7 linked regions of the Homo sapiens genome follow. The protein of the gene in region 6 purifies or fractionates together with the protein of the main gene of each other region. This does not show direct contact. Each region holds a gene or a part of one and is shown on either strand. Other genes may lie near its edges.

Region 1 (4,243 bases), on a different chromosome or scaffold from region 6:
TGCTATTAAGATTTAGTACAAGTTTTTAAGAGTTTAGTTTTCTGGCCGGGCATGGTGGCTCACGCCTGTAATCCCAGCACTTTGGGAGGCTGAGGCAGGCGGATCACCTGAGGTTGGGAGTTCGAGACCAGCCTGGCCAACATGGTGAAACCTCGTCTCTACAAAAAATAAAAAAATTAGCTGGGTGTGGTGGCGTGCACCTATAGTCCCAGCTACTCGGGAGGCTGAGGCATGAGAATCACTTGAACCGGGAGGCAGAGGTTGCAGTGAGCTGAGATTGGGCCACTGCACTCCAGCCTGGGCAATGGAGCTAGACTCTGTCTCAGGGAAAAAAAAAAAAAAAAGTTTGGGTTTTTAAAAATGTATGGTGAGCTAAGGAATAAGCTAATTGTTTTCTTAAATCAGAAGGGAAAAATGTTGTAAAATGCGTATTGCATTGGTTTTTAATCACATACCTGAAACTTATGTACCAGTGGGATTAATATTAGATGCTGAGATTTAACCTTTTTACTAAAATGGAAAGCTTAATATAGTTAGACTAGAAAACACCAAAACATGAGTACAGGGAAGTCACCAGGTGAAGATCAGTTTGGGTCCTCAAGTTTGTAAGTTGGGAATTTGGAATGTATTTTGCTGTGGAAACAGTGATGATTGAAATCTTGTGTTAGGTTGCAAAAGTCTGTTTAGAACTGGATAGAGCATTAAAAATGAAGCTTTTGCATTTAAAATTAAGAGGTACTATATTGACAGACAGACCAATTCCATTGATTAGGTTCAGGGCCACACCATTGTTCAGTGTTTTCATCCTCCAGGTAGTTCTTGGGGAGATGAAAAGAGCAAGGTGGCTGGGGGCAGTGGCTCACGCCTGTAATCCTAGCACTTTGGGAGGCTGAGGTGGGCGGATCACAAGGTCAAGAGACTGAGACCATCCTGGCCAACATGGTGAAATCCCACCTCTACTAAAACTACAAAAATTAGCCGGGCATGGTGGCACGCGCCTGTAGTCCCAGCTACTCAGGAGGCTGAGGCAGGAGAATCACTTGAACCCCGGAGGCGGAGGTTGCAGTGAGCTGATATCATGCCATTGCACTCCGGCCTGGCGACAGAGCGAGACTCTGTCTGAAAAAAAAAAAGGAAAAAGAGCAAGGTATAGTGACGCATCTCTGTAGTCCCAGCTACTCAGGAGGCTGAGGCGGGGGATTGCTTGGGAGCAAGCTCTTGTCTTAAGGGCAGTGATTTTATGTCAGGAATCTTTGTTCTGAGACTGGAGTAGGAAGTGAAGAGTGACTCAAAGAGATAAGCACAGCTTGAATTTCTTCCAGATGTGCTTTCTGTTTTTCCTACCCTTAAATCTGTTCTTGCTACTTATGGAAACAAATCTTCAGGATCTAGAGCACAGACATCAGCTTGTGTTGGCAGGAAGGTGTGTAAATGTAATAGCCTGGAGAACTCCCCTCATCCCCACTTGTTTTAGGAGTGGAGTGGGGCATATTATGGACCAAGGCTTGTCTACAATTACTCCAGCCTCTTGCCTCACAATTTTGTCTCCTTGCCTCCACTCTTAATCTCACCAGCTGGGATCTTCACTTTTTCTCTCTTATCTTGTTGGGACTCATATGTTGTTTACCTTGTTCCCAGATGGGGAAACAGCCCATTCTGGAGTTGGAAGGGCACTGAACTAACTCAGAGGGCAAGTTCCTCTACTTTGCAATTTTAACTGGTTCAGACCAGATGGCTTTCAAGTTATAGAAGTTCTTGGGAACACAGTGGCCAGAGGAAGCACATGTCTTCCGTCTTTAGGGTGTCCAACCTTGTTCTCTCACCCATGATTTGAGTGGAGATACTCCTGTATTTGTTTCACAAATAGTGAGCTATGTGTTCATATTTAAAAGTGTTAGCAATTTCTAGAATTGAGTTTATAGGCATTCAGTTTAAATTTACAAAGCAAATGGTTCCCATAATGTTTTGTTTTTGTGAGTCTTCCTATAGGACCCACTCCTCAGCAGTGAACATAATGAGATCCTTTCACTACAGTGTTGTAATAATAATGTGTTGCTTCTAGATCAGGCTGATATATGAGTGGCATGAGGACAGTGTCCCAGGTCACTACATTCTGATGTTACTGTGCTTCAATGTGTTCTATTTAAACTTAAAGGTGCATTTTTCTTTGGGAGGCCGAGGCAGGTGGATCACCTGAGGTCAGGAGTTTGAGACCAGCCTGGCCAACATGGTGAAACCCCGTCTCTACTAAAAATGCAAAAATTAGGCCGAGCACAGTGGCTCATGCCTGTAATCTCAGCACTTTGGGAGGCTGAGGCAGGCGAATAACGAGGTCAGTAGTTCGAGACCAGCCTGGCCAAGAGAACAGCCTGGCCAATATGGTGAAACCCCATCTCTACTAAAAATACAAAAATTAGCCAGGCACATGTAATCCCAGCTGCTTGGGAGGCTGAGATCACTTGAACCCAGGAGTTGCCTAGGCTGGTCTTGAACTCGTGGGCTTGAGTGATCCACCTGCCTCTGCCTTTCAAAGTGCTGGGATTACAGGCCTGAGCCACTGTGTCTGGCCTATTTTCTTTTTACAGACTCTCTGGTTTTTGTTGTTTTTTTTTTAGACGGAGTCTTGCTCTGTTGCCCAGGCTGGAGTGCAGTGGTGCTATCTCAGCCCACTGCAATCTCCACCTCCTGGGTTCAAGCGATTCTCCTGCCTCAGCCTCCTGAGTAGCTGGGACTACAGGCGCACGCCACCACCAAATTTTGACGTTGTAAATAATTGCATTTTGGATAACTGTGATTTTGAAATAATTCCTTAATTTTTTGTAGAAGTCAGTTTTCTGATTCAGCAAAATGGATAGTAATATAGGACGTTTCAATGGTGAGGGAGAAAGATGGTTGGATTGGGTGTTAACCCTAGAATTATGACCTTGGGCAAGTCACCTTTTCTTCTCTGCTCCCCGTATACAAGCGGAATGGACTTGGCTGTACCCAGTGAATCTTTAAGCCCAGCTAATTTTTGTATTTTTAGTAGACGGGGTTTCACCACGTTGGCCAGGATGGTTTCTATCTCTTCACCTTGTGATCCACCCGCCTTGGCCTCCCAAAGTGCTGGGATTACAGGCGTGAGCCACCACGCCAAGCCCTATTTTCTTTTTAGAGACACAGGGTCTTACTCTGTTGCCCAGCCTGTAGTGCTGTGCTGACAATACAGCTCACTGCAGCCTCAACCTCCTGGGCTCAAGTGATCCTCCCGCCTCAACCTCCCAAGTAGCTGGAACTACAGGCATGTGCCACTACACCTGGCTAATTTTTTTTTTTTTTTTTTGGTATTGTAGAGACTGGGTTTCTCCATATTGCCCAGGGTTGGCCTCTGACTCCTGAGCAAAAGCAGTCCTCCTGTCTCAGCCTCCCAAAGTCCTGGGATTATAGTGTAATTGTTTTTAATGTTGGCTATTTGCAGAAAAATAAAACACTACATAGAATTTTTTTTTTTTTTTGAGATGGAGTCTCGCTCTGTTGCCCAGGCAGGAGTGCAGTGGTGCAAACTCGGCTCACTGCAAGCTCCGCCTCCCAGGTTCACGCCATTCTCCTGCCTCAGCCTCTCGAGTAGTTGGGACTACAGGTGCCTGCCACCACGCCTGGGTAATTTTTTTTATTTTTAGTAGAGACGGGGTTTCACTGTGTTAGCCAGGATGGTCTCGATCTCCTGACCTCGTGATCCACCCGCCTCGACCTCACAAAGTGCTGGGATTACAGGCATGAGCCACTGTGCCCAGCCTACATAGTAATTAAAAGCTAAGGCTATAGAATTTGACTGGAGAGTTGGACACAATGGCTTGTGCCTGTAGTCTTAGCTGCTTCTGAGCCTGAGGCAGGAGGATTGTTTGAGGTCAGGAGCTTGAGACCAACCTGGGCAACACGAGACCGTTTTTAAAAAAATAAAATAAATTGGCCAGGCGTGATGGCTCATGCCTATAATCCCAGCACTTTGGGAGGCCGAGGTGGGTGGATCACCTGAGGTCGGGAGTTCGAGACCAGCCTGACTAACATGGAGAAACCGCATCTCTACTAAAAATACAAAATTAGTCAGGTATGGTGGTACATGTCTGTAAGCTCAGCTACTTGGGAGGCTGAGGCAGGAGAATCGCTTGAACCCAGGAGGTGGAGGTTGCAGTGAGCTGAGATCGCGTCATTGCACTCCAGCCTGGGCAACAAGAGTGAAACTCTGTCTCAAAACATAAAAAAT
Region 2 (2,382 bases), on a different chromosome or scaffold from region 6:
CTGTACTCATGGTAAGCGCATTATGTTGCAGGAGCAACCCCTATTTAGCTTTTTCCTCGTAACTTCAGGATGTTAGAAATTCTCATCTCTCACTTTTGGCATAGGGCCAGCTCTATGTGGTAGGTGGATCAAATGGCCACTCAGATGACCTGAGTTGTGGAGAGATGTATGATTCAAACATAGATGACTGGATTCCTGTTCCAGAATTGAGAACTAACCGTTGTAATGCAGGTAATAATAGTTTTCTCCTGAGATATCCAGTATTTAAATATGATAATTAAATTATCAATATGTAACTTTATTTTATACTTACATAGGAGTGTGTGCTCTGAATGGAAAGTTATACATCGTTGGTGGCTCTGATCCATATGGTCAAAAAGGACTGAAAAATTGTGATGTATTTGATCCTGTAACAAAGTTGTGGACAAGCTGTGCCCCTCTTAACATTCGTAAGTTGATTTTTTTTCCTTTTTTTTTTTAAAGACCTTCAAATCAACAGTATGTGTAGTATACACTTAGAGTCTGGGAGATGTAGCAATAATCTTGACTTGACTTTTCTTGTAGGGAGACACCAGTCTGCAGTCTGTGAGCTTGGTGGTTATTTGTACATAATCGGAGGTGCAGAATCTTGGAATTGTCTGAACACAGTAGAACGATACAATCCTGAAAATAATACCTGGACTTTAATTGCACCCATGAATGTGGCTAGGCGAGGAGCTGGAGTGGCTGTTCTTAATGGTGAGTGTTGGGATTTGGAGAGGTGAAGAGTAGATAGTGGCAAGACTTTGTTCTAAAACTCTGAGAGAAAAGGCCAATGACTATAGTTGTACAGTTAAGAATTCAGAAGCAGTCATCTCTTTTGATGCAATGGAGATTAGGGTGATTTGTCCTTTAGAAATATATTTTCTAATCAAAGACTTATAATACTTGATATATAACTTAATTCACCAGTCTTTTGATGGGTGCACTGAGTGAATTTCCAAGTCATTTTCTTCTATAAAACATATCCTTAATGCATCATCTTGAATTTTGAGTTTCCCCTTCTTTACAGCCAGAATTTAAAGAATCTGATCTGCAAAACAAAGGCAAATCCCTAGTCTTTTCCAACTGTCTACTCCATACCTAATTGGAAATACAACCTTTAGACTATTTTAACAAGTTTCCAAAGTATTAAACTTTTTAAATGTAGACATAGCTTTCTTTCCACCTCCATTTTATTGACTTTTAATGTCTAATTATATAATCATAATTTAAAAGTTAGCATTGTTTTTGGTACCAGGCTGAACCTTAGCAGGCTTATGGCTCAACTGGTGAAGGCTTAAGTGTAGACACAGCCTGTTGGCCTAGAGCATTGTCAGCGTGCTTTACAGATACATAGAATGCAAGCTGGTTAAGTGATGGTCAAATGAAAAAATAATGAATTTGAGAATCAGTAATAAAATTTTTTCTAAGCTACGGAGTATTTATTGCTAACATTTTATCTATTTGAAAATAATCATAACTCTGTTTCCAGAAGAAATTTCTGTACCACAATCATTTTATTTTTTTAATTGAGACATGGTCTCACTGTGTTGCCCAGGCTGGTCTCGAACCCCTGGGCTCATGCAGTCCTCCCACCTCAGGCTCCCATAGTATTGGGATTATAGGCATGAGCCACCGCATCTGGCCCCAAAATCATTTTATACAGTTGGAAAGCCCTAAGATATTTTTCTGCTTTCCTATAATCTCTTCTGAGTCTTAATTCTGTACATTGGGCTGATATAAAGTCCAGTGCACAGAACTATTCTGGTTTGCTACTTAGTAGCTGCATCTGTAGGATAATTGTCCAGCTTCTTCCTGCTTTTCTTCTTCTCTGAAATAATAATAGTAACTACCACAGAGTTGGTGAAAATTGTACTTATTTAGATGCTGCTACTGCTTCCTCTCCCTCCCCCTTTTAAGTTGCCTAAGTTCCACGTGGGAATGGTTTTTTTATTGATTTGATTCCCAGCTCTTAGAGAGTATTTGTCATATTAGGCATTTAATAAATTCTTTTTGACAAAATGAACAGGCATTTCTATTTTTAAAACCACTGATTTTTAAGCAAAAGACAGATTTAGGGGAGTTTTACCTTATTACACTTTAATCTCTGGATTTACCCCATCTCATTTCTCTTTTAGGAAAACTGTTTGTATGTGGTGGCTTTGATGGTTCTCATGCCATCAGTTGTGTGGAAATGTATGATCCAACTAGAAATGAATGGAAGATGATGGGAAATATGACTTCACCAAGGAGCAATGCTGGGATTGCAACTGTAGGGAACACCATTTATGCAGTGGGAGGATTCGATGGCAATGAATTTCTGAATACGGTGGAAGTCTATAACCTTGAGTCAAATGAATG
Region 3 (4,243 bases), on a different chromosome or scaffold from region 6:
GGCGTGGTTACAGGCGCCTGTAGTCCCAGCTACTCGGGAGGCTGAGGCAGGAGAATGGCCTGAACCCGGGAAGCGGAGCTTGCAGTGAGCCGAGATCGCGCCACTGCACTCCAGCCTGGGTGACAGAGCGAGACTCCATCTCAAAAAAAAATAAATAAATAAACCTTAATTAAACTCTTCCTACTGATCCTGCCAAACACATCTCTGGGATTCACAGAAAAGCTATATAAGACTAGAGAAAGAAAATCAAGGTCACTCCTCAATACTCACCCTTTCTGCCAAGAGCACAGGCCAGTTCGCTACCAAGGAAGCCCCCACCGATAATCGTAATTGATTTGACTTCCCGTGAAATCTTCTCCAAGCTTCTAAAGTCTCCAATCTGCAGGATCACATCAGTTTAGTCCATTAATTTCCAAAAGGGGCATAGGATAATAATACTAGAAAGTAGTTTCTTCTAAATCTTTGGCAAAAGTAAATTTTCTCCTTGTATAAAGTGACTCAATTATAACTTCTATGTTATTAATGCAAATTTATTTCTTCATGGTAAAATTCCTTCTATAAACAGTGGTTCTCAATTGGTGGCAGTTTTGTCCCTATCTTCCCCAGGAGGACATCTGGCAATATCTGAAGACATTTTTGGTTGTCAGGGCAAGTAGGTGCTCCCAGCATTTAGTGTGCAGAGGCCAGGATGCTGCTAACATACTACAATGGCATAAGACAGCCCCCACTACAATTATCCAGCTCAAAATGCCAATACTGCAGAGGCTGACAAGCCTTGTTCTAGGAAGAACTTAAAAGACAGTACACAGCCTGGCCAACAGGGTAAAACGTCCCTACTAAAAATACAAAAAAAAAAAAAATTAGCCGGTCGTGGTGGCACATGCCTGTAATTCTAGCTACTTGGAAGGCTGAGGCACAAGAATCGCTTGAACCCGGGAGGCGGAGGTTGCAGTGAGCCAAGATCGCACCACCGCACTCCAGCCTGGGTGATAGAGCGAGATTCAGTCTCGAAAAAAAAAAAAAGACAGGACAAATCTTATCCCTGAAAAATGACAGCAGTTTTTATAAGCACAGTGTTAAGAAGCAGAACACCTCCTTGCTTTTTATTTAGGTACTCTTAACTTTTTTCTCAGAAGTCTCTACACAGCACTTGCAATGAAAAATGCCAAGAGGCTGTAAGGGGTTCCAATGAATCAAACACATCAGGAAAAAACAACTATGGAAGAGCAATCAGAAGGATCTATTGCAAGCAATACAAACACTCCATTTTTTCCCTAGGAGCTTAAAACCCTTGAGTGAGGTATCTGAGGTGCAGAGAGAGGAAGTGACTTGTTCAAGGCCAGATAACAAGTCTGGAGAAGAGCCATAAATAGAACTTGGATCTCCCAAGTCCCGGGTGGGCACTTGGGGACTGCAAGATTATACTACTTCTTCAAAAACAACACAAGGAAAACACTAAAGCAGACAATTACCTTTCTGAAAAGCGTTGTTCTACTCTTCACCTCTGCTCCAGCCCTATCAATGGCAGACAGACTTCTTGGAGTACCTCCTGGAAATAAGAGAAGGAAAACCCTTTAGCCCAACAAGCAGGAGCCAGCCCAAACAATACTCCCTCCACCACACAAAGGTGGAGCCCTCTTCACTTAGCACCATGGCGGCAACAACAGGATAGGATACCAAGGCTTTGTTTGCCTTCAGCTTGCCTCACAGCAGGCTTTCTGTCAGTTTCCTTTGAGAAGCAGATTTGAGAGTCTGTCTTCAAGGGGTACACCCTGCCCCTAGGTGGCCAAAAGGCCTTACTTTTGGCTTCCATGTTCTCTTCTAGTTTCTCATGAGGATTTGCCAGCTAGCATAGCTACATGGGTTTGATAAATTGCTTCTGTCTCCTCTCTTGGTTTCTGATTGCAACTGGCAATGAAGCCACAAACGACATCACTTTCAAGGCACAGGGCACAGGGTGAGGGTTAAGCAGGGAGAGAAAAAAGGGCAACTTCTTCATGCCTCTACCGGGAGAACAGCAAGGATCATCCAGAAGGGCTGGTGATCCAGGATGCTTTGACACAGCCAGCTTTTGTACCAAGAGAAGACACTCACTTCAGAGAGTCTGGGTTTCCATTTTCTTAAGTAGTAATGCCTTCCATAGAGAAGGCTGGACTCTAAAACTTGAATGAGCTGTATCAGGGAAGAAAGCCATCTCCAGAAATGCTCACCTGTTGCAATCAAGCACTTTTCATAGGTTATTTGAGAGCCATCATTAAGTTTCACCATGTTGTCTCTCACATCCAGCTGTACTACCTGGTACAGTCACACACATACACAAAAGAGGTAGAGATGAATTAGCATTGAAAAAGTTTTATTGAGATATAATTCACATCAAATTCACCATTTTAAAGTGTGGAATTCTGTGGATTTCAGTATATTCACAAGGTTGTGCCACCATCACCACTATCTGATTTCAGAACATTTCCATCACCACCCCAAAACTCCAGGTCAATAAGAAGTTGTCAGCCCAGGACAGGCACAGTGACTCATGCCTGTAATCCCAACACTTTGGGAGGCTGAGGCAGGCAGATCACTGAGGCCACGAGTTTGAGACCAGCCTGGCCAACATGGCGAAACCCCGTCTCTACTAAAAATACAAAAATTGGCCAGGTGTGGCGGCATATGCCTGTGGTCCCAGCTACTGGGGAGGCTGAGGCAGGAGAATCGCTTGAACCTGGGAGGCAGAGGTTGCAGTGAGCCGAGATCATGCCACTGCACTCCAGCCTGGGCAACAGAGCAAGATTCTGTCTCAAAAACAAAACAAAACAAAAAAACCCCAAAACCACAACAACAAAAACAAACAAAAACAAAAACAAAAAAAGTTGTCAGCCCAATAAGAAGAATGAGTTCTTGACCTAAAGCGATCCTTAAGAAACCATATCCAAGTAATCATGGGAACCACAGTTTCTGGTACCCAGTTTTTTTAGGCAGTCATATGTTGGAAATTGGCAATGAGAAGGCAGGCAACATTAGAGCAAGTCATGACAGTCCCAAAGCCCTGACCCATGTGTGGAAAAGGAGAATCGGAACAGCCTTTCTTATATGGCTGTTTGGAATTACTTATTATTACTTTATTAATAAGTCTCCTACATCTACAACATTTTTACAGAATGCTTTCTCCAACTTGTAGCCTTCACGGAAACTTGGCTCTCTCTTAAGGAGAGCTTACACATAGAGGCTGTTCGTTCCCCCACACTCCACATCACAAGGCCAGGAGGAGGTGTTGGCATTCTGCAAGCTTCTTGAGGTTACTGGTCTGCTGCTTCCAGATTCTTGTACTTTCATTCTCTTCTGAGGGACATCAGAGGAGTCCTATATTCCTACGAATCACTGTTTTGAGCCACCTCCTGGCTACTCCTCCTGATTCACTGAAGACCTTGGAACCTGGCTCATACTTTTCCTCATCTTGTTATCTCCTAAACCTCTCCTCCTACCTCAATTATTCTACTTGTTGGTCACAATTTTCCATCCCTTCAGCTTTCGCTCAGTCTGTCTCCTATGCTTGCTTTCAATTTTCTCTGTTTATTTGACTAGCTGCTCCATTCTAACTAATTTGGGCCAATGGTAGAACACCCAAACTGTTCTTTTGCCAGTACCTTTAATTCCCTTGCACCCTACTCCTTCTTATGGTTAAGAGCTTGAGCTTTGGAGTCAGAGAGAATAGGGCCCCAGTCTTTGCACCACTCTTTACTAGCTGAGACCATTCAATTAAGCACCTACTATGTATCAAGTTGAGACAGTGATCCTTGCTGCTTTCAGAGTTTAGTGGCCAAGACAATTTAACAAGCACTAACAATAATCAAGAGTGACAAATGTGATGTAAGTGGTAAGAACAGTGCAGGTAGCGCTGGGAACATATGACATGTGCAATCTAGTCAGGTTGGGTTGGGTAAAGCTTTCTAGAGGCAATGACATGAACTGAGATCTGATGGATAAGCAGCTTCTTTAGCCTCCTTTGATTTGTCCTTGGTAAGCTCCCTCTTCAATCCAATCCCGCTACTCAACCCTCACGGTGTTCGCTCTCAGATAACCATCTTATGTTCTATTGTATTGCAAAAACAAATGAAGCCATTAGATGTGATCTTCCATAGCTTCCCATGAGGCATGAGGGCTCCCCACCACCCCCGTCCAGCCTATTAACATGCTTGTCCCATCCAATAGGTCCCACCTTTGATTCTATGTCCTCTTCACGCTTTTATCC
Region 4 (4,104 bases), on a different chromosome or scaffold from region 6:
TTTTAGTAGAGACAGGGTTTCACCGTGTTAGCCAGGATGAACTTGCACTGATCTCTTTACCAGGCTTCCCCTTAACCCTCTGCGCAGAAATTCGGGGTTTTTCTTTGTGTTTGAGACAAGAGTCTCCCTCGGTCTCCCAGACTGGAGTGCACTGGCGCAATCACGGCTCACTGCAGCCTCAACTTCCAGGGCACAAGCCATCCTTTTGCCCAGCCTCCTGTGTAGCTGGGACTACTCGGGAGTCCCATCTACTCCCGTGCGCTGCCATCACGCCCAGCTAATCTTTGTATTTTTTGTAGAGACAGCACCTCACTATGTTGCCCAGGCTGGTCTCCAACTCTTACGCTCAAGCGATCCTCCCCCTCGGCCTCTCAAAGGCGTAAGCCACCGCGGCCAGCCTTTTTTGGAACTTAAAAAAAAAGCCATAATGTGTCATTAGGAACCTTGGTGACATGACAGCAAAACCAAAATGTACTTATTTATTAGGTGTCACTTGGAAGCGCAATTTTCAACAACGCAAAACTATAAAAAAAACCCAACGTCGGCCTCCACAGGCTAATCAGTCTCCGAGGCACTGACGGCGGGAGAGATGAAAACGCGAAGGCCAGAGGAGAAAAAGAGGAAGGATTTGCAGAGAGAACGGTAACGTGGTGGACATGAATACACCCAAGAAACCCGGATCCCGCGCGGCACATTGGGACGAAGCGCGCTGGCGGGCGGCCAGCAACTCTGGGCCAGGGGAAGGAGGCGGACACCCAGCCCGAGAGCCGAAATCGGCCCCAGTGGACGCTTTCATCTTCGCGGCCCAGAAACACTCCTATTTTTCACCGCACAATGCAAACATGGTGGACCAGAAAATCCGCCCCGCGTTTGCCGGTCGAACCACGTGGGGCCCTTTCCGCGCCGTCGATGCCTAGCCAGGGCGGGGCCCTCACAGAATTTGTTCACGGTGGGGGCAGATCACCGGAGAACTTCTCCAGAGCGCTACGGCACGGTTCCTTCTACACACTGGCAGAACTGCCATTGCCATCGCCCCGAGGCGGCAGAATGGTACGCTCTGAAAACTGGATGGTTCTAACGTAAGCAAGAAAAACGGTGCGCGCTGCAGCTCTTTAACTGGAACAGCCTCTGCTCGGTCTACCTCGCCCCCAACAGCTGCGCAACCCACCACCGCGCAGGCGCGCTGCGTGCCGCCAGCGCCATGCGAAACCGACTTTCCCGTCTCGCGAGAGTGGGGCCGGCCGCCTTCGCAGTTCTCGCTCCGCCCCCCACTTCTTGCTCGTTCCCTCCCATCCCCCCAAGCCAGTAGCTGTGCTGCGCAGCTCCCTAAGCGGTTGTCACCGCTGGAGACGGTTGGGAGAACCGTTGTGGCGAGCGCTACACGAGGCAAACGACTTCTCCCTTCTTTGAACTGGACCCCGCGAGCACCAGAGTCGGCGTAACTATCGCCTGACAGGGTATCTGAAGTAAAAGGGGGTAGGTTGGGCTGGTGGTTTCGAGAGCGGAGTCGGGAGAAGGACGAAAGGCCGGGAGGGGCTGGGTTGGGGGGTAGTGGGGTGGTCGCCGCTCGGAGGCCGCCGCTTGGAAGCGGCGGGGCTGCGCCTCCCCGACCATCTCCCACTTCAGGGAGGGCGGCTTGCCGATGGGAGGACTTGCTCAGGTGGAATTCAGTGGACGACGCCGAGGCCCGAAGTAGGGGACATCCAGCATTTTCCCCTTTCCCTGCTGGCTTGGCCTCCGCCATTTTGGGTACAGTGGCGCGGCCACCTCGGCTTCCCGCCCTTCCCCGCTCTTTTTACTTTTTTGTTCCCCAGCTTCCGAAAACTGATCTAGAAGGCCAGGGGAGGGGGTGGTCAAAGCTCCCTGGAAGGGATGAGGGTGGGTAGTGAAGCGAGCAGGGAAAGGCCGGGCAGTTGGGTGGAGGGAGGATCGGGTTTGCCGGGCGCGCTCCCGATGGAAATGGCGCCGGATGGGCCTGGCCTCCCACCGCGGCCTCCCTTCCTCCGCAGTCTCGGCAGGGCTACCTGGGCTGACGGGACTGCGAGTGACTTCTGACGCAGATTCCCAAGATGAGAGAGGCTGGAGCTGGGGGAGGAAAGCCAATGGCGACGAAGGTGCTCAACTCCCAAATCCAGGACAAAGGAGGCAGACGGCCTCCTTTGTAATTCTGCCGCCCGGTGGCGAAGGGTTTTAAGCCAGGCTTGGCTGCTGACGGGAGGGGGAAGGGGCGTACTCTCCCTAGCTTTCTGGTCTCTAGGGCAGCTAGATAAACGGAAAGTCTCCTGGGAGGAATAAAGGACGCTTAGCCGGCCCTTATATTCCAGATTTGGAACTTCGAAAAGAGTACGTACTGATTTTCCAAAGGGTTTTTTTTTTTTCATGTTTAAACGTTAATAAGGACTTCGGGGATGATTTTGTGAGCAGAAAAGTGGGTGATTTATCAAATAGGAATGTGAAATGGGCATGTTTCAAGTAGGTCGTCTGGGCCCAGTGAACTATAATTGTTGCTTTTTGAACTTTCGGGGTGGGGGTGGGTGATGTAGCAATTGTTTTGCGTAGTTTGGCGTATATATGTTAGAATTTGTTTTTAAGTTTTACTTTTGGGAAACAGTTAAAACAACCCAGTGATGGTAGATGTGTGTGTATTGAAATTGAGCTTTCGATGTTAAATCTTCCAAGAGTTGTATTTTGTGCAGTTTTTTTTTCCGATGGCATTAAGGCTCTAGAAGTAAAATACTTCAAAATACGGTTATGGTTTATTTTCTTTTGGTAGCTAGGCATGTTTTTTCTTTAGTGTAGGAGTATAGTACACTGTAATCGTATTTTAAACAAGGGAATAAGCCTACTAAACATAAAAACAAATTGTAAACCCAGTCACGTGGTGGTGGTGTGATTCGGATGAGGGTCCTGAGAACTGGATCCGTAATTTTCATTGAAGACAGTACAAAAGGGAGGAGAAAGGCCTGAGAGTAAGAATTTCTGATAATTCATGTAAAACTTTATAAGAATATTGTTACCTACTTTTCCAGCTCTAAAAACAAAAACTTATTATTATTGAAGATGTTCAGTGATGCTTTCTCAAGATTGCCAAGGAAAAGTTTACGAAAATCTTACCTTGAAACAGTAGGTTTGAGTGACCCTTTGAAGAGATAGTCCAGACTGTCCTGTAAAGTTATATATGATATAACAAATAGCTTTACTAATTGGATTGGACTACACATCTTTTTTCTGTCCTCTTTTCATTTGTGCCGTTATCTGGAAATCCATCTAATTGCCTTTTTAAAATAATGTTATCTTTGATTTCCTTGTTTTGGTAAACTGACTGAACTGCAGTAGATAAAAACCTGGTTCTAGTGAACTAACATTTTAGAGACCTTACCTCCTTAAGCTATTAGGGGTGTGTCTAGTTTTTTGTTTTTGTAAAGAGCAAGCCCATTGGGAAGGAATGATGTAAATTTTCTGTTAAACTTAAATCATCAGCACTTTTTCCAAAAAATAAAATTCATTCTCATTTCTTGACCACTGGGCTACCATTTAGAAAGTTATTTATTGATGTAAAATCCTTTATGTATTACTTCAGAAGATAGGCTATGCCTCCGTGTTAAGAGGATTCTCTATTTCATTTGTTCTTTAGTGGATTTTTTTTCTTTAACGACTTTGGTATATAATTCACATACCGTAAACTTCACCAATTTTAAATGTACAGTTTAGTGGATTTTAGTACATTCACAGCGTTGTGTGACCGTCACTACAATTTAATTTTAGAACATTTTTGTCACTCCAAAAAGATATCCATACCCTTTACTGGTCATTCCCATTGCTGGCATCCTCCCTCCCCTCAAGCCTCAGACAATCATGAATAGAAATGGAATCATGCAATATGTAGTCTTTTGTGACTGGCTTGTTTCACTTGGTGTAATGTTTAGAAAATTATACTTAAAGTCTCATAAAACTTGACCAAAGCTATCCTCATATTTTAACTGTGGTATCTTTTATTGGTACTAGCACCTAGAATTCTTAAAGCAGAGTAGTGATTAGCCATGACATTGTTGCAAAGAAAGGTTGAGGTGGATTATCCTGAATAATTAGTAAACTGTTTTAAGT
Region 5 (4,861 bases), on a different chromosome or scaffold from region 6:
CTGCGAAAGGAACACAAAAGTCAGGACCCCAGTTCACTCTGTCAAAAGGAAAAGAATGAGCTGAAAGCTGAGTCATGTAAGCAGCTGCCTTTCCTTTCGTTCCTAAGCAGACGGCTACAGATAGAAGGTTCAACATCCGCTTCTCTTATGTAAAGTGCTGATTTGCTGAGGAGTGAGCTGTACACAGTCGACTGTTCCCAACCTGCTTCTTTTCTCTTGCAACGTGTGGATTACCACACTGTTCCGCTTTCCCCTCCAGCCCACTTTTCCCCTTTAAATACTGAAGCCCTCAAAGTCATCTTTGGAGAAAGGCACAGACCACAGACTGTTTCTGTGATACCGTGTTTTTTTTCCTCCCAGGCATTGTCCTTAACCTTGGCAAAATAAACTTCTAAATTGATTGAGCCCTGTCTCAAGATACTTTTTGGTTTAAACCTCTGAGGCCCTACTGTTTCTAATACAGGTTTCCAGTTTGCTCATCTTTCCCAGGTAGGAAGATGCTCTGTTGCCAAGAGAAATGCAATTCTAACACGCAAATCCGCCCAAACACTAGAGCTCAGCATTCAGCTCTAGCCGAGCTAAGAGGATCCCATGGTCCTGCCCCACAGTCTGGGGCTCATCTTGTGGAGGAGGTAAGTAAAATAGGCCCTGTCTCTCTGACTTCTACCTAATCAGAGTTGATAGTTGCGTTGGAAATTAGGTAAATCGCAGGTGAGTTGATGAATGTGGGAAACCAGATGAAAATGGCTGCTTGATGGGGTTAAAACGCAGGAGAGGAATAGAACCCTTCCAACGGAATGGTTCCAGCCTTGTGACATGAGGAGACTGAAAGGGTATCCCAGAGGCAGGTCACTGGCCTTCCAGCTCCACCTGTGGGTGGCCTTGGCCAGGCAACTGCAAGAGTGCAGGGCCCCGGGGAGGTCGCACCTGGCAAGCGCTGAGGGAGGGTAAAGCGGAGAGGGGTGTGAGAAGAGAAAAACAACACAGAGCGTCCGAGCTATGTGAGGCGTGCGAGGTTAATCCGGCCCGGAGAGACAGGTCTATGCGGCTTCAGCGGTCCCCACCCATGCCTGGCAATTGTTTAAAGGCACTATTGCTCCGGACCCGCTGCCTTCACCCATGAACTTCCTTTCCTGGAATTATGATATAAAGAACAACGTACAGCCAATTAATAGCTTGTTATTTTCATGTAAATTCTTGGTGAGCTATTTAAGAACTGCCCCCCTCTTAAGCTTTATAAACCCACTTGTCACTGTTGCAAATCCTATGTTCAGGGCAACTTGAAGCTATGCTCCCGGGTTGCAATCTTCAAACTTGGCCCAAATAACCTCTCTACTTATATCAAGTTTGCCTCAGCTTTTTTTTTCTTCTAGGTCGACGGTTCCCGCCCCGCAAGGGTGCAGGGAAGGGGACGCCCGCACTTCCTAGTGCTCCCTTAGCTGGGGTCGAGCTGAGCGCCCCCCACCGAGCCCCAGGCGGCTCTGTGGAGAAGCCCCTCGGCCCCGGGTTCGGTCTGCACTGCCAGCCCCCAGTCCCCGGCGCGCAGGATCCAGCAGGGCCAGCGCCGGGCGGGCGAGAAGGCGAGAGAGCTAGGGCCGGGCGGGGAGGGCACCGGCAGGGGGCGCGGGTTCCCAGGACCGAAAAGGCGGAGCCTCCCACGCGCACTACGTGCTCCCTACGCGCATGCGTCCCGCCCACGCGCAGGCAGCACCTCGCCTGACTGGGTAGCGCTGCCACGTCGGGGCGGGGAAGAGCGTCGTCGCGTCCGGGTGACGTCTCCCGAGGGCGTCGGCAGGGTCGGCGGCGTCGGCAGCAGTGTCGACGGCAGCGGCGGCGGCGGGTGGGAAATGGCGGAGTATCTGGCCTCCATCTTCGGCACCGAGAAAGACAAGTGAGTGGGAGCCCCCCGCCGGGGGTTGGGCGCGATCGGGGCGCAGGGTGGTTGAGGCGGTGGGAGGGCGACCGGGGAGGCCCAGGCGGGCCGGCGCGGCGGTGGCGGGGGAGGGGCGCGCGGCGGGAAGGAGCGGTGGCCCTTCCGGCCCCTTGCGCGCCCTCCGGAGCCGCCGCCTCGTGGGCCGCGCGGCGGAAAACTGGAGCGGGCAGAATGAATGGGGTCTCTTTTCGGGGCGCCGCGGCCGAGCTTTCTCCGGCCTTGGGGTCCGGACTGGCTGATCGCCCGACGTCCGGGCCTCCGAGTCGCCGACTCCCGGAAGCCGCCTCGAGCCGCGCTGAAAGTTGCCTGGAGCATCCGGGCCTTTTGGACGTGGACACGTTTGTTCCAACTTTCGGCTGTGAATGTCCTGTCGAGCAAGCTCTGGTACCAGCCTCGCCAGTATTCAGTCGCTTATCTAACTTAGGGTCCTAAGCGTTGGTGTTTTATCCACTTAGCCAGCCTCTTGCCTGTTTAAGCGACCGCTGGGCCGGCAGTAAGGAGATATGACGAGAAAAAGTATGGTGGAGACTACTGGATTAACTATCTAACCACAAGAGACGTGATCCGCTCTTAACATACAGGTGCTCCTGGATTTACCATGGGATTGCGTTCCGATAAACCCATCATGAATCGAAAATGCCTTTAATACCCCGATAAACCCATCATCTAAGTTGAAAATTTGTAAGTCGGTGACTGTTCTTGAAGACACAATTCTGATATAAGGAAAAAGATGTTTTGATTTTTTCCTTAAGGTTGCATGCCTTCCCTAATCAATCGTTAGGTTAAAAGCAAAACATTTAATTTCAGCTTTAATTGCCACCTTGGCACGTACTAATTTCCAGTGAGTTGGCTGTAGTTTAGACTAAATGGAATGTTTTCAGACGTTTGAAGGATAATTCTTACTTTGAAAACCTAAAGACTCAGCATCTGGCTTAATCTACTCTTTAGTTATCTTGGCATTCTTCAGTGCCATACAAAGTTAACATGACTTTATGTTTTCAATGATAAACCCCTAAGTTTGTCATAGATGTTTTTAATGCCACTTTTTTCAAACGCTATTTAAAATGTTTCTCTTTTCCAGGATGGAGTCTATCTTGTAAAATGTCCTCTTCACACATGGTAGAATCTCCTGTGTTGTTTGGATGAGGAGGCTATATTTCTAGCAAAATTTTAAGCCAAAATCTACCAGTTATAGTCACTCCAGAAACATTTAGTGGGGGTCAACTATAGGTCAGTTTCTGGAGACTTAAACATGGGTAAAATTTGGATATTATCCTTAAGGAACTCACGGTATGATCTTGGCGAATGAATAGACCAGCTCTATCGGAACAAGAGACTCTTCTGAGTTTAGGGTGAAGAACTAACACATGTAGGATCGGGGCATCATTAATTTCTCCTTTTCATATTTGCATGTGGCATGACTTCTGTCTTGTAAAAGTCTATCTCCCTATATTTCTGCTATAAGCAACCACATTTCAATCTATTGGGCTATACTATAAAGGTCATGGTTTTAATTCAGAAAAGTTGATTATTTAATCTAGGTTACTTGTGTTTTCTTTTCAGGGAGACGTGGGGTTTTAGCTTCCAGGGAACAGGATCAACTCCTGAAAAATGAAGCTGATGGTTCATATTAACTTTAATTATTATTTAAGCTAAGAATAAAATATAGATCTCTACCAATTAAAAAATGTTTAGCTTATTATATGTTTGAAGTTATAGATGTTTTCTAGATTCAGGGATATCCTAATAGCTTGTCTGTAGTTTAATTGTGTGGAATAATTGGATATTAATTGTTGAGGCCCAGGGCTTGCCCATTCTGAGGTAGTTTTTAAATAAGCTTTCTTTATTTTTAGATGACTTCCTAAAGATATGCTATTGTCTAATCAAGTTAAATAATCTCAAGACCTGTAAGTTTGCAAATATATATAATCACTTTCCTCTCCTGATAAATTTGGACTTTCCCATCTTTATTGCTACCTGATAATAAATCAGTGGCTAGTCAGTCTTCATGGTCCATTAGATTTCACTGAGGTTGAGGCCCTTCAATCTTAACTCTGGATTGACTGTTTAAAACATAATGGCACTTGGTTAAAAAAAAATTGAATTTTGAACAAAGTCTGTCTGGTAAGATGTCCTAATTCATCAGAGATCGGCTTCCCTCCCTGACATTGCTGGCACACAGGCATGATTGCTGGTTCCATTGGATATGGATCTGGATTGTCAGCGTATTTGAACAGTATTAAGGGAGGGTTTTGCAGTAGAGACAGAAGGTGACGTAAGGTGGTTCCTAAGGTGGGTTCGGTCAGTCCCCTAATAGTTTGTTTTCAGTGTATTGAGACCAGGAGAATTGATTTACTTCAGACCTATTTTTTGAAACTCCCTGTTGGTCTGGTGTCATGCGTTTAGAGAGACTCTGAACTTCGTTTTCTGTTTTCCTTAGATAATGATAGCACTTCATGAGCACCATATGTGAAGCACACATACGTTCTGTCTGACTCTCAGAACAGTGCCACATTGGCATTGTCATCATTTACAGATGACATCTGAGAGCTAGGGTGACTTGCCCAAGCCCAAGCAGCTGGTAGCAGAGTTGGGATCTTAACCCTCACCACACCGGTGTTTTCAAGAGAGAACTTGGTCGTGGAGAACTGGAGAACAGATACTGCCTAAGTTACATTTAGTTTTAGACTAATTTAATACTCCATTTAAGAAACAAACAGAACAGCTGTGCAGTTAGGAAAGTGGAGGGGATTTGAATGAGGAGGAGGCGGGTTAGAGTTAGAACCGTCTTTGCTGAACAAGTAGTGTGTTTGCAGAAAGGGAAGTTGAAGTTACGTTGTCCTAAAATACAGCAAGGAAGAGGAGGTGCTTAATACCACGGAAAAAAGTCTGTGTCATGTTTCTGTGAGGTTAAAAGTAATTTGATAG
Region 6 (4,243 bases):
ATGTGCCTGTAGTCCTAGCACTTTGGGAGGCTGAGATAGGAGGATCGTTTCAGCCCAGGAGTTTGAGACCAGCCTGGGCAACATAGTGAGGCCCTGTCTCAAAAGGAAAAATAAATAAAGAGAAAGAAAAGAAAGAACTAATTAGCCATCAATGGAGAATTCTGGTTAACAACTGATTATCTTCATTTACAAATAAAGGTAAATAAAGCGAATCCAGCATTATTCTGCCTTTCATAAATGAACTGTGCCACTGGAAAACCAAGCAGTAGATGAGGCAAAGTGTATCTCTATAGAAATACATCAGTTAATAAACAGAGGACAGAATTAGATTATTGCTGTTTTAGAACACCTAATAAGCCAAAATATTTAGGTCCTGAGCATCAACAGCTGCTAACATCAGAAAAAGAGAGATAACCAAATATTCAGTGCCTCTGATGAAGACAGATGCCCCACAGTGTGACATATTCTAGCTGAAATAAAATAGAGCTGACCAAGCAGGGAGAGTTGCATTATCCAATAGAACTTTTTGTGGTGACAGAAAAATTATATTCTGTACTGTCCAGTACATTAGCCTCTGGTCACACATGGCTACTAGCATTTGAAATGTCGCTAGTAGGACTGAAGAACTTAACTGTTATTTTGAGACAGGGTCTCGCTCTGTTGTCCAGGCTGGAGTGCAGTGGTGCAATCTTGGCTCACTGCAATCTCCACCTCCTGGGTTCAAGCGATTCTCCTGCCTCAGCATCCTGAGTAGCCTGAATTACAGGTGCATGCCACCAAGCCCTACTAATTTTTTTTGTATTTTTTTTTAATAGAGTCGGGGTTTCAACATGTTGGCCAGGCTGGTCTTGAACTCCTGACCTCAGGTGATCCGCCCGCCTCGGCCTCCCAAAGTGCTGGGATTACAGGCATGAGCTATGGCGCCTGGTCTAATTGTTAATTCTTAATTGACTATGGCTGTGATAGTCACATGTGATACTGGATGCTGCAGCTGCAGATCCAACTATCCGTTTAGAGAAAACCTAGGGGACTGAGAAACATTAGGCACATGGTGATGCGCTCAGCAAAATCCAGACTGTTGGGGACTCTACAAAACAAATCACCCATTTCTTCAACAATTAACTTGATGGAGGGAAAATGTATGAAATTAAAAGAGGCTCAAAAGACATGCCAATCAATTACAATGTGTGGACATTATGTGGACCTGATTAAGCAAACTGGAGGGGAAAAGTATTAATTTATGAGACAATTAGTAATGTGAACACAATTGGTAATGTGGGTGTGATCATGAATTTTGGTCTTTATCCACTAAACGCACATTCTGAACTATTTATGGTTGAAATGGTATGATGTCCTAGATTTGCTTCAGAATCATGCATGGGGCAAGGGGTGGGAGTGTGGCTGGGCAGGACTGGCCATGGGTTAATGGTTGTTGGGGCTGGGTGGCAGATACGTATGACTATGCCTTTGAGATTGTAAATAATACAAAGTGATGGGGGTATGGGGACTACTCCGTAGACACACATCTGCACCACTACAAGACTCGATAGAGAGCCGGGTAAAAGGCCAAGCATACTTTTGAAAGAATCTAAACTTAATTTATTTTGAAGAACCCATGGGAGAGGACAAAAAGAAAGAACAGAATAGGAAAGGGTGAGAGGACAAATTCACTTGGTACTCCATACTTGGACCTGGGTCCTACCAGCCAGAGAATCACGTATGAATACTATCAGCCAACTTCAGAGTTACTTACTTTCTAATAAGCCTCCAAAGGACAATGGTGATTAGTATTTCCTGGGTTTCTCTACCCCGCAGCTGAAGACCTGCAGATGGATCCAGCACAAAAGGGACCTGCCATGCACACTCTCTGGAATGTACATCATCTTCTCACCCTTATTTGTTTGGCAAATTACAGAATTCTCAGTAGTAAAGAGACAATTTCACAATCTGCCCTGAGGCACACCGTCAAAAGGCAGGTAGGCTGGGAAGGGCCAGCCACATTTCCTAATCTGCACCTCGGACTCCTTTTCCAGATCCACCCATCAACACGATCAAGTTAGTGAATCCCATGTCCTTACAGCCAACAAAATGTTGGGCATTAAAACTTGCTGTATGTCACTGTCAGCTAACTTCCTCTTGGGCAGTTTACACATGCACAGAAAGCTAAACACTTTACACCCACTATCTCATTTAATCTATGCAACTCTTCTAGGAGGCTGATTCTTTGAGTCCTCCACTTTACAGATCAAGGAACTGAGGCTCAGAAGAGATAATGATCCATGAACACAGCCGTTAAGAGGGACCCAAATGGCAGGGCGCGGTGGCTCACACCTGTAATCCCAGCACTTTGGGAGGCCAAGGTGGGCAGATCACCTGAGGTCAGGAGTTCAAGACCAGCCTGGACAACATGGCGAAACTTCGTCTCTATTAAAAATACAAAAATCAGCCAGGCTTTGTGGTAGGTGCCTGTAATCCCAGCTACTTGGGAGGCTGAGGCAGGAGAATCACTTGAACCTGGGAGGCAGAGTTTGCAGTGAGCTGAGATTGCGCAACTGTACTCCAGCTCCAGGCGACAGAGAGAGACTCTGTCTCAAAAAAAAAAAAAAAAAAGAGGAACCCGATTGAGGTTTTCCTTCTTACATCATCCAGAGCTTCTCCTCTGCCCAGCAGGAGCACCCATATTTCTTGGCTTGGCCCCTTCACCATCTCACCCTGTCCTGGTTACATTTCCAGCTCTTTACCGCCAACTCTCTCCCTGACCCCAGCAAGCCCTGTTTCCTATCTTCAGCCACCAGAGCTTCATCCTTTCTATGCTCCAGCTGCGGGACTCAGCCCACACTGCCCTCAGGCCCACCCGCCTCCCTTCTCCCCAGCCTTCAAATCCACATCAGGACACTTTCCCCACTCAAATCGGTCACGTCTTTGTTTGGAATTCTGGTTTCACATTCACTGTCCTGCAGCAGAGTTAATAATGTTTGTGTCTCCCTATTAACCTGAATACTATCTATGGTTATTGGGCACATACCATGTTCTACCCTCCACTCATTTATCCTCACGATGCTATCAAGTAGGTATCATTATCATCTTACAGATAAGGAAACCGAGGCTCAGAGGGGTGAGCCACTTGCTCAAGGTCCACAGCTAAGAAGTGACAAAGCCAGAGCTTATATGATTAACCGCTACTGCCAGATGATTCTGGAAGGAACACCAGGGTGGGAGCATTTTTACCTCCTGCTGCCTTGCACACCCCAGGTGTTAGACGGGCAGAGTGTTGCTTCTCTGTGCCAGGCAATAGCTCAAACCTGCCCTTCTTGTGGTCCTGGGAGCCCACTGCCTAAGAAACTAATTCTTGGCTGGATGCGGTGGCTCACGCCTGTAATCCCAGCACTTTGGGAGGCTGAGGCAGGCGGATCACCTGAGGTCGGGAGTTCAAGACCAGGCTGACCAACATGGAGAAACCCTGTCTCTACTAAAATTACAAAATTAGCCGGCGATGGTGGCGTATGCCTGTAATCCCAGCTGCTCGGAAGGCTGAGGCAGGAGAATCACTTGAACCCGGGAGGCAGAGGTTGCAGTGAGCTAAGATCCAGCCATTGCACTCAGCTAAGATCCAGCCATTGCACTCCAGCCTGGGCAACAACAGCGAAACTCCATCTCAAAAAAAAAAAAAAAAGAAAGAAAAGAAAAGAAAAGAAAAGAAACTAATTCTTAGAGAAATTGTGAGTTCAGCATGCCTTGGAAAGAACTTTATAATTATACAACGTGCTAAGTCACAGGCAATTTGGTCAGTCATTTGAAAACTGCCAATGCCATGGCTGATAATAATTCTGGAGGCTTGGAGCATATTAACACCAAAATGTTTCCTTTTTGGGGGTAGAGGCAGAAAGAGGGAACCTAAACATCCCCAGTAAATAAAAATTCCCCTGGAAACTATGGAAAGAAGACTCTTAACGGTTCAGGAGTGAACTGTGCCTCCCGCCCCCCTTCCCCCAGCACACAGGCAACTAATCTAGGAAATAAGATTGGTTTACGTCTTCCTTTAATCCAGGATTCCAACGGCCCTGTGTGCCTGAGGCAGAAGAGTTTGCCTAAAATATTTGTTAAGAGACTGGATGAGAATCTGTCACTTTCTCTCCAGGGGAATCTGGGCAATTGGGGGACAGAGGGGCAAACTAGCTGCAGAGGCTCCCAAAACAACGTTGCAATTGTCCTTCCAGCCTGGTGATAAATATGCAAGTGGGGC
Region 7 (4,243 bases), on a different chromosome or scaffold from region 6:
GACAGAATACACTTAAGTTTTGACTGGAAACGTACTGGTGTTTTATTCTTTAATTCTCAAAGACAGTGTCACTTTTGTGTTCTGAGTTTTGTTAAAAAAATCTATTTGAACCTTGAAATGTTGGTTTAAAATCCTTTTAGATCTTCCCCAATTTTTTCTGATCATCTTCAAGAACAAAGTCCAGTGTTTCCTCTCTGATTCTTGCTAGTAACTTAGCTCACAAGATGCCAGCTGCAGAAGGAACGCTCTCTCGGGCTCACGCCTCCCAGGAATAATGAACACAATGTAGCCCGGGCCCAGCTGCAGGGCCAGCTCACGGGACCCTCCGCCTTCACACAGTAGTCACTCTTTTTTCCTAATAGCTCTTATAACTTTGGGTTTGGGGAGGGAAAGAGGCAGGAGGAAGCAAAGGAAAGGGGGAGTTGAAAATGGGTTATGGCGAGCACCACTGAGACCCTAGCTCATCTCAGATTTCCCATTTTCTGCTGATCTGTATTCTCCGTGGGTCCTGACGGGATTGCCTTGCTAGGCTATTCATGTTTCGGGCAGCTGGGTCTTTGTGTGTTCTCCTCTATTGCTGCCACTTTTTTTTTTTTTTCTGGAGTAGAGTTATTTAACTGTACAACCCACTGCAGTGCATTAGGACTCTTGTTGGAGCTGTTTGGAGTATCAGACGCTGTGTGTGATTTTGCTGCAGCAATGATGGCTTGTCACACCTTTCTCCTCCTATCTAGCAAGATGGAATCCTAGGTGGCTTCAGCTTGTTAGCAAACATTTATTGAATTAGTAGTCATTGAAAACCTACTGTGTACATGGTATTGTGGAAAAAGGAATAAAAATAGGTATTGTGGGGGATGCAACCTATAGCCAAGTAGAAGGAATAAGACAAGTGCCCAAATAAATAAATCACAAGTACTTCTGAAACTTGTGTGAGTATCAGAATCCCCTGGCAAGCAGACTCCTGGACCTTCTTCCCAGAAATTTTGACTCAGGCACTCAGCTTAGTGGTGGGGAACAGGAGCCTGCACTTTAAATTGTACCATGTAATTGACATGAAGGCAAACCGTGTTTGGAGGTTGAAGTTCTGAGCTGCAGAGTAATGTGACAAGAGCAACCTGAGTGACATGAACAGACCCGTACCCTGGGAGGTGGGGAGTGGGATGGAAAATGGGATTTGGTGGATTTGCTATGGCAGTCCAGAAAGCTGACTTCTAAGGAAGAACTGGGCTCTGGAATTACTGGATCAGATGTGAGCACTGTGTGTGCCACCTTATCCTCCAGCAGGAGCTGCCCTCCTTTCATTGAGACTTGCAGGGCCATTCACTGATGTCCTCAAAGCCTTCACAAAATAGTGATAATAATGATGACCATAGTAATAAAAAAAAATAGCTGGGCGCGGTGGCTCACGCCTGTAATCCCAGCACTTTGGGAGGCCGAGGCGGGCGGATCACGAGGTCAGGAGATCTAGACCATCCTGGCTAACACGTTGAAAACCCATCTCTACTAAAAATACAAAAAATTAGCCGGGCGTGGTGGTGGGCACCTGTCGTCGCAGCTACTCGGGAGGTTGAGGCAGGAGAATGGCATGAACCCGGGAGGTGGAGCTTGCAGTGAGCCGAGATCGTGCCACTGCACTCCAGCCTGGGTGACAGAGCGAGACTCCGTCTCAGAAAAAAAAAAAAAAAGAAATAGAAGTCTTAATAACACAGAACTGACAATAACACAGAACTGACATTAAAGAACAGGTGTTAATTAATGCATTAAGCACTCATCTATGCACTTTTCATGGCATAGAGCCATTTCATCCTCATGGCAACTCAACGGTTTAAGTGCCAGGTGTAGCCCCATTTCACAGATGAACTAGTTGAGGCATAGAGAAGTTCATCTGACTGTCCCAGGGTCCCTCGTTAGTAACTAGCAGAGCCTGGATTTGAACTGCAGCATTCTGACTCCACAGCCTGTGCTCCCCCCCACCGGATTCCACTGCCATTGGGTGGGTTTTGTGTCTATCCACAGGTGCCTCTTGAAACAGGTGGGGCAGTTGTGTCATGTGATTTTGAGCAAGTTGTTTCTTTTCTTCAGGCTTCTGCACCTTTCATAGGTCAGTATCAGGATCTCATGGACTATACAAAATTAAAAAAAAAATGTAAGGGCTAGTTGATTTGGCAGGTGAGTTGTTACACACTCCTTAGTGGATTCTGAGTTCCGTGCCTACCATCCCATCCTGCTCTCTTTCATCCAGACATCCAAGGCTGGAGGATTTACCTTGTTTAATTGGATTGGGATGTTATCTTTTCTTACAGAAACCAGAAAGCATAAGGAAAGTACTAAAAATATCATATGATTTTACCCCAGATATACCACGCAGATTCTCAAATTTGGTTTTCTTAAAAAAAAAAAAAAGGCACTCTACAATGAAAAATCATATGCCTTATAAACATTATATGTGTAGATATATAACCAACACAAAATGCCCACCGAGTTCCTATATGGCCGTGTGGATGCTGTACAATACCCGTTCCACAGTGCTTATACTGTTAAAGCAAAATAGCAGCAATATTGTAACAAACAAACTGACACATAACTGGGGATTTAGCACATAACATATGTCTTTTATTTAAAATGTTTTATAAAGTTTGTAATTGGTGCTAATTTCTGAGCATGAGGATTTCTCTGAGTTACAAAAGGGAAGTAACCCAGAAGAGAAATACCAAGGGGAGGTGTGTGTATAGGAACAGGAAAAGCAGGATCATTAGCAGTTGTTGACATGGGTCTCCTGTTTGGGACTGAATCTGTCTGCCTTGATTGGGAGAGTACATCGCTGTCTTTCCACAACATCCTTTTCGTATGGCTGGTGGGGTCAGCGTCTGAGGTCAGCCCTGAGGGTTGGCTTCAGGGGGTTGCTTCTCCTGGCCCCTGAGGCAACCTTGGATGTCCGAGGTGAACAGGGCTAATTTAGCATGACCTCTTGTCTTTTCTTTTCTTTACTTCTTTCTTTCTCTCTCTCTCTCCTTTTTTTTTTTTTTTGAGTCTCACTCTGTTTCCCAGGCTGGAGTGCAGTGGTGTGATGTCAGCTCACTGCAACCTTTCCACCTCCCAGGTTCAAGCGATTCTCCTGCTTCAGCCTCCTGAGTAGCTTAAATTGCAGGCATCCGCCACCAGGCCCGCCTAATTTTTATAATTTTAGTAGGAGTTTTCACCTTGTTGGCCAGGCTGGTCTCGCACTCCTGACCTCAAGTGATCCACCCGCCTCGGCCTCCCAAAGTGCTGAGATTATAGACCTGAGCCACCACCCAGCCAGAATGAGATATTTCTTTGTGCTCCCCTTCCTTTCTGTTCCCTCCCAGCCTAGATTGAAGGTGTCCATGTCTTGATTCTGCAGCCTATCCGGCAGCGCTTGTTCCTTTGTCCTTTGCCGAGAGTCCCACCAGCCCCTCACCTAGGCCTGTGCTCACCATGTGCTTGGCCCCATGTACCCAAATCTTGTCTCCTCTTGAGTGAGGCACTTGGCCTGGCTTGATGTGAAGCCCAGTCTAAAGCCGCTACGGTCATCTTCCCATTTATGAGGGTAACTGTCAAACAAACCAGTTTCCAAGAAGGAGTTAATGATCTGTAAACCATAACAATTTTTATATTGCCTTTTTTGAGATTCCTTGCCTTCAGGTATAACAGTAGTAGTCCCTTAGCTCTCAGGAAGGAAGAGATTGATTACAGTTTCATAGAAGGGAGGGGAGATGTTTCTGAGCTGAAGACTTTGCAGGTAACCCTTAAATACTATCAGGGGGTGCTTGTATAAAACAGCCAGTCTTAGAAATGAATTCCAGTCATCCAGCTTATCTCATGATAAGGACTCTTGATTTGAATGTAAGTGTATTTGAAATTAGCATCACATGTATCTGATTTCTACACCTAAATCTTTGGGTTCCGTTGATCAATTATGTATTTAACTTGAAATACAGTCATGTTTTCTCATTTTAGACAAAGGGCCATTTTTTACTTCTTAACACAAATGAAAATATTAGTTTTATTATGTGACCACCCTCATCACATGCATCTCTACAGCTCTTTCTTGGTGTTGGCCATTTGGGGCATTTCTTGAATCCTATGCCAATTATACAGACTTTCTTTTGCAAAGTAAGTTTCTGACTTTAATACCAAGACAGAATACAAATAATATTCTATAAAATTTACATAGAATCTAATATAATATATATATATATATATTAGATTCAAGCCTGTGGTT

Evidence for each region.
Region 1: the proteins of OVOL2 (region 6) and TMED2 purify together in Homo sapiens (affinity purification with mass spectrometry, with the first as the bait; one large-scale study listed by BioGRID). This does not show direct contact.
Region 2: the proteins of OVOL2 (region 6) and IVNS1ABP purify together in Homo sapiens (affinity purification with mass spectrometry, with the first as the bait; one large-scale study listed by BioGRID). This does not show direct contact.
Region 3: the proteins of OVOL2 (region 6) and AIFM1 purify together in Homo sapiens (affinity purification with mass spectrometry, with the first as the bait; one large-scale study listed by BioGRID). This does not show direct contact.
Region 4: the proteins of OVOL2 (region 6) and HNRNPH3 purify together in Homo sapiens (affinity purification with mass spectrometry, with the first as the bait; one large-scale study listed by BioGRID). This does not show direct contact.
Region 5: the proteins of OVOL2 (region 6) and U2AF1 purify together in Homo sapiens (affinity purification with mass spectrometry, with the first as the bait; one large-scale study listed by BioGRID). This does not show direct contact.
Region 7: the proteins of OVOL2 (region 6) and PID1 purify together in Homo sapiens (affinity purification with mass spectrometry, with the first as the bait; one large-scale study listed by BioGRID). This does not show direct contact.

The regions. Positions count from the first base shown.
Region 1 is NC_000012.12:123,590,659-123,594,901, forward strand, and holds part of TMED2 (transmembrane emp24 domain-containing protein 2 isoform 1 precursor), read left to right. Parts: intron 1-4,243. UniProt on the Homo sapiens protein: Involved in vesicular protein trafficking. Mainly functions in the early secretory pathway but also in post-Golgi membranes.
Region 2 is NC_000001.11:185,298,066-185,300,447, reverse strand, and holds part of IVNS1ABP (influenza virus NS1A-binding protein), read left to right. Parts: coding exon 1-11; intron 12-104; coding exon 105-231; intron 232-317; coding exon 318-449; intron 450-564; coding exon 565-738; intron 739-2,159; coding exon 2,160-2,382. UniProt on the Homo sapiens protein: Involved in many cell functions, including pre-mRNA splicing, the aryl hydrocarbon receptor (AHR) pathway, F-actin organization and protein ubiquitination.
Region 3 is NC_000023.11:130,138,323-130,142,565, forward strand, and holds part of AIFM1 (apoptosis-inducing factor 1, mitochondrial isoform AIF precursor), read right to left. Parts: intron 2,296-4,243; coding exon 2,211-2,295; intron 1,550-2,210; coding exon 1,473-1,549; intron 380-1,472; coding exon 271-379; intron 1-270. UniProt on the Homo sapiens protein: Functions both as NADH oxidoreductase and as regulator of apoptosis.
Region 4 is NC_000010.11:68,330,760-68,334,863, forward strand, and holds the start of HNRNPH3 (heterogeneous nuclear ribonucleoprotein H3), read left to right. Parts: upstream 1-1,304; 5' UTR 1,305-1,457; exon of another isoform or gene 1,458-1,476; intron 1,477-2,024; exon of another isoform or gene 2,025-2,343; intron 2,344-4,104.
Region 5 is NC_000021.9:43,104,481-43,109,341, reverse strand, and holds the start of U2AF1 (splicing factor U2AF 35 kDa subunit), read left to right. Parts: upstream 1-1,771; 5' UTR 1,772-1,847; coding exon 1,848-1,891; intron 1,892-3,496; exon of another isoform or gene 3,497-3,556; intron 3,557-3,786; exon of another isoform or gene 3,787-3,840; intron 3,841-4,861. UniProt on the Homo sapiens protein: Plays a critical role in both constitutive and enhancer-dependent splicing by mediating protein-protein interactions and protein-RNA interactions required for accurate 3'-splice site selection. Recruits U2 snRNP to the branch point.
Region 6 is NC_000020.11:18,051,110-18,055,352, forward strand, and holds part of OVOL2 (transcription factor Ovo-like 2), read right to left. Parts: intron 1-4,243. UniProt on the Homo sapiens protein: Zinc-finger transcription repressor factor. Plays a critical role in maintaining the identity of epithelial lineages by suppressing epithelial-to mesenchymal transition (EMT) mainly through the repression of ZEB1, an EMT inducer.
Region 7 is NC_000002.12:229,149,014-229,153,256, reverse strand, and holds part of PID1 (PTB-containing, cubilin and LRP1-interacting protein), read left to right. Parts: intron 1-4,243. UniProt on the Homo sapiens protein: Increases proliferation of preadipocytes without affecting adipocytic differentiation.